Linked DNA regions of Homo sapiens: region 2 is linked to region 1. The links come from fine-mapping of genetic effects on gene expression. A gene starts in region 1. The other region holds a variant in brackets. All regions are shown on one strand. Distances are from middle to middle. Region 1 holds the start of PLVAP (plasmalemma vesicle associated protein). Region 2 overlaps ABHD8 (abhydrolase domain containing 8).

What was found. PIP is the estimated chance that this variant, and not a neighbour inherited with it, causes the effect.
Region 2: its variant is the best candidate, but not a certain one, in a credible set for the expression of PLVAP in whole blood (INTERVAL, PIP 0.63).

What each region holds. Positions count from the first base shown.
Region 1 is chr19:17,375,172-17,379,556 of GRCh38, forward strand. PLVAP (plasmalemma vesicle associated protein) reads right to left here and starts at 2,171. Exons shown (of 6, transcript NM_031310.3): 1 at 1,749-2,171. The coding sequence starts at 2,117. LOC105372298 (a long non-coding RNA gene) reads right to left here. Exons shown (of 3, transcript XR_936362.3): 2 at 4,242-4,315; 3 at 3,619-3,659. RefSeq lists an enhancer at 3,989-4,385.
Region 2 is chr19:17,297,814-17,302,198 of GRCh38, forward strand. It overlaps ABHD8 (abhydrolase domain containing 8), which reads right to left. Exons shown (of 5, transcript NM_024527.5): 2 at 3,043-3,811. The coding sequence starts at 3,803. It also overlaps a transcript of MRPL34 not described here. Among named protein-coding and RNA genes, the nearest start is that of ABHD8, 3.4 kb to the right of the region's middle. RefSeq lists enhancers at 3,148-3,648, 3,649-4,149. The variant C/T (reference allele first, on the strand shown) is at 2,188.

The DNA.
Region 1 (4,385 bases):
GGTCTCAAATTCCTGGACTCAGGTGGTCCTCCTGCCTCGGTCTCCCAAAGTGCTGGGATTACAGGTGTGAGCTACTGTAGCCGGTCTTCAGCCACTTATTTGCAGCTTGTGTGTGCTGGACCCCTTTGATTAGTGCTGGCACATTCTGGGAGCTTCATGCATAGTAAGTTATGGGCTCAGGACTGCCAATTAACACACAGGAGGAGAATTAAACTTGGATTCCAAAAAGACAATGAATATTATTTTCAAAATTATATCTCAAATATTGCATGGAATATACTTACAGTTTAAAAAAAATGTTGCTGGCTGGGAATGGTGGCTCATGCCTGTAATCTCAGCACTTTAGGAGGGTGAGCCTAGGAGTTCAAGACCAGCCTCAGCAGCATAGTGAGATTCTGTCTCTAAAAAAAAGTTAGCCAGGGCACCAGGTCAGGGCACGGTGGCTCATGCCTGTAATCCCAGCACTATGGGAGGCCGAGGTGGGTGGCTCACTTGAGGTCAGGAGTTTGAGACCAGCCTGGCAAACATGGTGAAACCCCGTCTCTACTAAAAATACAAAAATTAGCTGGCATGGTTGCACACGCCTGTAATCCCAGCTACTCAGGAGGCTGAGGCAGGAGAATCACTTGAACCTGGGAGGTGGAGGTTGCAGTGAGGCGAGATTGTGCCACTGCACTTCAGCCTGGGTGACAGAGCGAGACTCCGTCTCAAAAAAAAAAAAAAAAATTGCCAGGTGTGGTGGTGCCCACCTGTAATCTCAGCACTTTGGGAGGTCCAGGAGGGAGGATTGTTTGAGCCCAGGAGTTCAAGACCAGCCTGATCAACATAGCGAGACCCCACGTCTACTAAAAATAAAAAATGACCTGGGCATAGTGGCATGTCCATAGTGCCAGCTACTCAAAAGGCTGAGGCAGGAGGATTGCTGGAGCCCAGGATGTCAAGGCTTCAGTGAGCTATGCTCACATCACTGTGCTCCAGCCTGGGTGACAGAGTGAGACCCTGCCTCCAAAAAAAAGAAAAGAAATAAAAAAAATTTAGCTGGACGCAGTGCCCCACACCTGTAATCCCAGCAGTTTGGGAGGCTGGGGTGAGAGGATTGCTTGAGCCCAGGAGTTCGAGACTAGCCTGGGCAACATAGTGAGACCTCATCTCTGCTAAATATAAACATATTAGCTGGGTGTGGTGGTGCACGCCTGTAGTCCCAGCTACTCAGGAGGCTGAGGCAAGAGGATCACTTGAGTCCAGGAGATTGAGGTTGCAGTGAGCTGTGATAGCAATTGCACTCCATCCAGCCCAGGATACACATGGAGACCCTGTCTCTTAAGGAAAAAAAAAAAATCTATCGGCCGGGTGCAGTGGCTCACGCTTGTAATCCCAACAATTTGGGAGGCCAAGGCAGGCGTATCACTTGAGGTCAGGAGTTTGAGACCAGCCTGGCCAACATGGTGAAACCCCATCTCTACTAAAAATACAAAAATGAGCCGGTTATGATGGCACATGCCTGTAATCCCAGCTACTCGGGAGGCTGAGGCAGGAGAATCACTCCAACCCAGGAGGCAGAGGTTGCAGTGAGCCGAGATTGCACCACTGCACTCCAGCCTGGGAGACGGAGCGAGACTCTGTCTCATAAGAAAAGAGAGCATTGGTCCTGTGATCGTCCCCCTCTCTTGGATGAGGAAACTCAGGCTCAGAGAGGTGAGGGGGCTTGCTCAGGGTCCCCAGGGCGAGTGTCCTGCCCACAGCCTTACCCGGTCACCCTGGCACTGGCGGAAGCTGGCATTGATGCGGTCCAGGTCGCGGCGAGCATTCAGCCACATCTGCATGATGGCATCCTTGGCGCGGGTGGTGAAGTTGAGCTCCTTGGTCAAGTTGGACTGGGAGGCCGTGAGCCCTAGGAGCTGACTGTATAGGCCCTCGGCTCGGCGCTCGGTGGCCTGCAGGTTGGACTCTGTGCTCACGTGCACGTTGCCATAGACCATGAAGAGCACGAGCCCCAGGATGATGAGGAATTGGATGAGGGAGACGAAGAGGAAGAAGTAGCGCAGGTAATACCAGCAGCCCCGAGAGCTGCCCCCCGCCCGAGCGTAGGACCCTCCGTGCTCCATGGCCAGACCCATTTGCTCGATCCCGCCGTCCGGTGCACCGTCCCTGCTCACCACCAGGCCTGCTCTGGCCCCCGCCTCGCAGGGGGGAGTGCTTATATTACTCCTCTTAATACTTCCTCTGCCTGGCTCCTTCCTGGCCCGGAGGAAACGGGGGCTGCGGGTTATCACAACACTCCCACTCTGGCTGTGAGAAGGCGGGGGTGGGGCTGGGGGCCCAGAGCCAGGGCACCGGCTGGACCCCTCTGATTAATGCTGGGTGGGGCGCTGGCTGGCTGGTCAGGCATTCCTGGCCTCTTCGAGCCTCGCGTTCGCCTTTACTTGCTGGCGGGTGCTGTTCTCAGTACCTGCTGTGATTAGGTCGCTGAATCATGCCAGGTCTGTTGCTGTCTCCCTTGTGTGGCGGAGGAAACTGAGGCACAGGGAGGAGAAGGGGTTGCCTCGGGGTCTCACGCTGTTAGTTCAGCGAACTTGACTTACCTCAAGACAGGCTGGCTACAGACGTGCACCCACTTCACCAGGGCGGTGCTGATTAAGTGCCACAAAACGTGGGAAATGTGCCAGGCACGGTGGCTCACGCCTATAATCCCAGCACTTTGGGAGGCTGAGGCGGACGGATCACCTGAGGTCAGAAGTTTGAGACCAACCCGGTCACCGTGGTGAAACCCCCCGTCTCTACTAAAAATACAAAACTTAGCCAGGTGTGGTGGTGCTCGCCTGTAATTCCAGCTACCCAGGAGGCTGAGGCAGGAGAATCGCTTGAACCCAGGAGTCGGAGGTTGCGGTGAGCAGAGATCGTGCCATTGCACTCCAGCCTGGGGTATAGAGCAAGACTCTGTTTCAAAAAAAAAAAAAAACAGAAAAAGTGTGAAACTCTTAGCTAGCCTAGGGATGGAGAAGCAGTAGGTGATTAGTAATTGCATAGGAGGGCGTCACGGAGGGCTGAGCCATGGATGGCGGTGGCGCTGGCTCCCCAAGCTCTGTCATTGCCCCCAGTGCCCTGTTCACTTAGATGCTCAGTAAATGCTCCAGGAAACTGCAGCACAAGGAATAATGAACTTGGAGCGGGGAAGAGCTGGCTTTGTCCCGGGAGAGCTCGGGCAAGAGGCCTCGCATGTCTGTGCCTCCCTTTTCCCCTTTGTGAGACGGGGTATACCCAGTGCCTCGTCACTCTGTGGCTGTTGTTATGATTAGGATCATTTCCTGCTGGAGGCACTGCTGGGGGCTCCGTGAGATGGTGAATGACAAGTGGTGGATACGTGGGACTGAGATTCCTCCCCCGACACTCAAAACCCCATGGGCGGCCGGGCATAGTGGCTCACACCTGTAATCTCAGCACTTTGTGAGGCTGAGGCAGGCGGATCACCTGAGGTCAGGAGTGCGAGACCAGCCTGGCCAATATGGTGAAACCCCATCTCCACTAAAAATACAAAAATTAGCCGTGTGTGGTGGCGAGCACCTGTAATCCCAGCTGCTTGGGAAGCTGAGGCAGGAGAACCACTTGAACCCGGGAGGCGGAGGTTGCAGTGAAGCGAGATCGGGCCACTGCACTCCATCCTGGGAGATAAGAGAGAAACTCTGTCTCAAAAACAAAAACAAACAAACCAAAAAAACCACGGGAGTTTTCTGGGGTCGCTGTGGGTCACCCCCCAGTTGGGCCTGGAGGGGATTTGGGGACCCGGAAGCAAAGGATTCTGTGTGTCCTGCCTATCTCCCAGGATCAGGAGCTCCAGGGAAACCCTCCCTGGAGTCCCTTCTTTGTTTGCTCCATGCTGGGTGATGCCAGGGCCCCCCAAGAGGTGTCAGTCCCAACCTCAGCCACAAGCAACTCCCAGTCTTGGGAGACAGACTGGGACAGGTACCCCCCACCCTGTGGAGTCAGGGTGGGCTGGAGGAACAGGAGCAGGGAGCCGGAAAGGAGGCTGGACTCCGGACAGGTGACAATCATGCAATTGCTGTCCTCTGTAGGGCAATGTGAAGGCTGGGGCGTGGGGACCCGTCCCCCCATTAGCCAGGGTAACAGAGTGGGGAGGGGTCGTTGACAGAGCGGAGGGGTACTCCAGGGTGGTGCTCAGTGAGGCGAGTGTAGAGTTGAGAAGAAGGAAGTTCCCAGGGGTGGGCAGGAAACCCATGTCTGACCTTTGACCTTTGCAGCTACCCGGTGGTTCCTGATCCTGATTCCGGACCCTTCCCAGCGGCGTCGTCGGCGGCTGCTAGTGGGGGAAGGAGGGCTGGGGGCTGCCACGGGTGCCCAACCAGCCATTTCTCTGGGTTGGCCAGACC
Region 2 (4,385 bases), 77 kb before region 1:
TTGAACTCCTCAGCTATAGCAGTCCTCCCACCTCAGCTTCCCAAAGTGTTGGGATTATAGGTGTAAGCCACCACACCTGGCCACTTATTTATTTTTCTTTTTTCTTTTTTTTTTTTTTTGAGATGGAGTCTCACTCTGTCACCCAGGCTGGAGTGCAGTGGCACAATCTCGGCTCACTGCAAGCTCCACCTCCTGGGTGCACGCCATTCTCCTGCCTCAGCCTCCTGAGTAGCTGGGACTACAGGCGCCTGCCACCATGCCTGGCTAATTTTTTTTTGTATTTTTTAGTAGAGACGGGGTTTCACCGTGTTAGCCAGGATGGTCTTGATCTCCTGACCTCCTGATCCGCCCGCCTCGGCCTCCCAAATTGCTGGGATTACAGGTGTGAGCCACCACGCCTGGCCTTTTTTTCTTGTCTAATTGCATAGGCTAGAATCTCTAAAACAGTGGTGCTCAACTTGCCTGGCTGTTCAATCTTGCCTTTCTTCCTGGATAAAGGAGAGAATGAGGCCACTTGGTAGTGGTCAAGCCCTGGGGACCAAGCCTTCCATGGAGGGGTTCTTGGTAAGTTTTAGGTTGTATTACCTGCCCTTTAAGCAGGAGTGAATTACAGTAACCCATGCCTTTGTAAATGCCTAGAATTTACAGGATTCCGATGAGCGCTTCCTGAATGCACAGTGTTCTCCAGGGCAGTTGATTTTTTAACTTAGTCTAAGGCAGTGGTTCTCAGCTGGGGGTAATTCTGCCCACCAGGGCACGCTTGGCAACTACTGAAGACATTTTTGACTGTCATGATCAACACTAGATTGTGTAGTTGCATCCAGTGGGCAGAAGCCAGGGATGCTACTAAACATCCTATAGCCCCTCACAGAAAAAAAATAACCTGGCCAAACACGATAGTGCTGGGATTGAACAACACTGCTTTTTTTTTTTTTTTTTTTTTTTTGGGCAGAGTCTCACTCTGTTGCTCAGGCTGGAGTGCAGTGGTGTGATCTTGGCTCACTGCAACCTCTGCCTCCCAGGTTCAAGTGATTCTCCTGCCTCACACCCCCGAGTAGCTGGGATTACAGGCACACACCATCATGCCTGGTTAATTTTTTGTACTTTTAGTAGAGATGGGGTTTCACCATGTTGGCCAAACTGGTGTTGAACTCCTGACCTCAAGTGATCTGCCTGCTTTGGCTTCCTAAAGTGCTAGGATTACAGGCGTAAGCCACTGCACCTGGCCTGAGCAACACTGCTTTAGAACAATGTGAAACAATATCAGTGATGACGGAAATCCCTGTCTGATTACATATGCTAATGGGAGTTTTCAGCCTGGTATAGCGGCTCATGCCTGTTACCCCACCACATCGGGAGGCCAAGGAGGGAGGATGGCTTGAGCCCAGGAGTTCAAGACCAGCCTGGGCAACATAATGAGACCCCCCCCCCATTCTCTATATAATTTTTTTTTGAACTTGAAAATTGGCCTGGTGCGTTGGCTCACGCCTGTAATCCCAGCGCTTTGGGAGGCCGAGGAGGGCGAATCACGAGGTCAGGAGATCGAGACCATCCTGGCTAACACGGTGAAACCCCGTCTGTACTAAAAAGACAAAAAATTAGCCAGGCATGGTAGCGGGTGCCTGTAGTCCCAGCTACTAGGGAGGCTGAGGCAGGAGAATGGCATGAACCTGGGAGGTGGAGCTTGCAGTGAGCCAGGATCACGCCACTGCACTCCAGCCTGGGGGACAGAGTGAGACTCCATCTCAAAAAAAAAAAAAAAAAAAAAAATTAAGGCTGAGCACAATGACTCACACCTGTAGTCCTAGCACTTTGGGAGGCTGAGGTGCAAGGATCACTTGAGCCCAGTAGTTAAAGAACATCTTGGGCAACATAGTGAGATGCCATCTCTATTTAAAAGAAAAAAAAATTTTAAAAATGTAAAAATTAAATTGAAAAATGGGATTTTTTTCAAGGAGAAAAATTAGGATTTTTGTTTGCTTTGTTTTGTTTTAGGAGATAAGGTTTTGCCATGTTGTCCAAACTCATCTCCAATGATCCATCCACAAAGTGCTGGGATTACAAATGTGCACCACCGCGCGTGGTGGCCCCTTTTTTTTTTTTCATGACGGAGTCTCCTTCTGTCGCCCAGGCTGGAGTGCAGTGGCACAATATGATCTTGGCTCACTGCAAGCTCCGTCTCCCGTG[C/T]TCATGCCATTCTCCTGCCTCAGCCTCCCGAGTAGCTGGGACTATAGGTGCCCACCACCACACCCAGCTAATTTTTTGTATTTTTAGTAGAGACAGGGTTTCACCGTGTTAGCCAGGATGGTCTCAATCTTCTGACCTCGTGATCCGCCCGCCTCAGCCTCCCAAAGTGCTGGGATTACAGGCGTGAGCCACCGCGCCCGGATTTTTTTTTCTTTTTTAAAGAGCGACAGGTTCTTGCCATGCTGCCCAGGCTGGAGTGCAGTGGTGTGATCACAGTTCACTGCAGCCTCGACCTCCCAGACTCAAGCAATCTCCTGCCTCAGCCCTTAAGTAGGTGGAACTATATGCGTGCACCTCCTCACCTAGCTAATGTTTGTACTTTTTGTAGAGCTAGGGGGTTCTCCCTATGTTGCCCAGGCTGGTCTCAAACTCCTTGCCTCAAGATATCCTCCCGCCTTGGCCCCCGAAAGCACTGGGATTACAGGTGTCAGTGGCATCTCAGAGTCTCCCTCTGTCGCCCAGGCTGGAGTGCAGTGACACAATCTCGGCTCACTGCAACCTCCACCTCCTCGGTTCAAGTGATTCCTCTGCCTCAGCCTCCCGAGTAGCTGGGACTACAGGCGCGTGCCACCACGTCTGGCTAATTTTTGTATTTTTGGTAGAGACGGGGTTTCACCACCTTGGCCAGACTGTTCCCGAACTCCCAACCTCAGGTGATCCGCCTGCCTCGGCCTCCCAAAGTGCTGGGATTACAGGCGTGAGCCACGGGGCTCAGCCAAAAACTCAGTATTTTGTGACTGTAGTCCCTGCTGACCCCATCCCTCACCCCCACCCCACATGCCAGGGTTCACTTACCCGTAGGAATGGCCAATGAGCACATTTCGCTTCTTGGCATAGCGCTTGAAGATTGCTCGCATGTCCTCAGCCAGCGCATAGAAGGTGTAGGCTGCGGCCACCTGGGGCGCAGAGCTGGCCCCGTGGCCGGCCAGGTCAGGAGCCACCACCTCATAGCCTAGGCGCACAAAGAAGTCCAGCTGCTCCTTCCAGATGGCCAGGGAACCGCCGACACCATGGATGAAAAAGAGCACCACGTCGGCCTGGGCGCCTTTGCAGCTAGTGATGCGCTTCTCACAGTCAATATGGATGGTCCTCTTGGGGCGCCTGGCTCGCCGCCGCCGCCCACCACTGCCACTGCCGCTGCCGCTGCCTGCGCTGCCGGGGGCCAAGCGGCCATCGCTGCCCGCCGGATCTGCCAGCTCCACCTCCAGGGCGGCCGGCGGCTCCCCAGAGCCATTCTGCCCGTGTAGGAGGTCGGCTCGAGGGGCTCGGCCCAGGTTTTCCACCAGCAACCGCCCATTGCGGTACACGGTGATCCGGCGCTGACAGCGGACCAAGCCGGAGAGGTCCCCCTGGGCTGCATCCGAGGATGCGGATGATGGTGGAGGTGGGGCAGCGGCTGGGGCGGGTCCTGCATGCTTCACCCGCAGCACGCGGCCGGGCTTGACCTCTACAAAGGTGTAGCCATCGCTGGACTCGACGCTCTCCAGTGGCCCCACGGCGTTGGGGGGCGTGCCCAGCAGGCAACAGAAGATACCGTCGGTCACCCCGGTCAGCATGGTGTGTCCTGTGAGTGAGGACAGCAGCCAGTTCAGGTGCTGTCTCAATGAGAACCCTGCACCGTGCAGCAGGCACTCCCTGAGCCTTGGGAGAACTGTTTTAGACTCCAGTTTGGGGAGCGCCAGATCAAGTGAGCCACGGCACTGAGATTTTTTTGTTTGTGTGTGTGTGTGTGTGTGTGTGTGTGTGTGTTTTTGAGACAGTCTCGCTTTGTCATCCAGGCTGGAGGGCAGTGGCCGGATTTCGGCTTACTGCAACCTCCCCCTCCTGGGTTCAAGCGATTCTCTTGCCTCAGCCTCCTGAGTAGCTGGGATTATAGGCAGGTGCCACCATGTCTAGCTAATTTTTGTATTTTTTGTAGAGATGGGGTTTCACCATGTTGGCCAGGCTGGTCTTGAACTCCTGACCTCAAATTTTCCTCCTGCTTCGGCCTCCCAAAGTGCTGGGATTATAGGTGTGAGCCACCGTGCACTGACATGTTTTGTCTGAGCAGTGCCTTTGTGGTAGTTACCCTCCTGGGTCACCCTAGTCTATCCTCAGAGAGAAAGACTTGGCTATGGCTTACCCCACAGGGTGTCCAC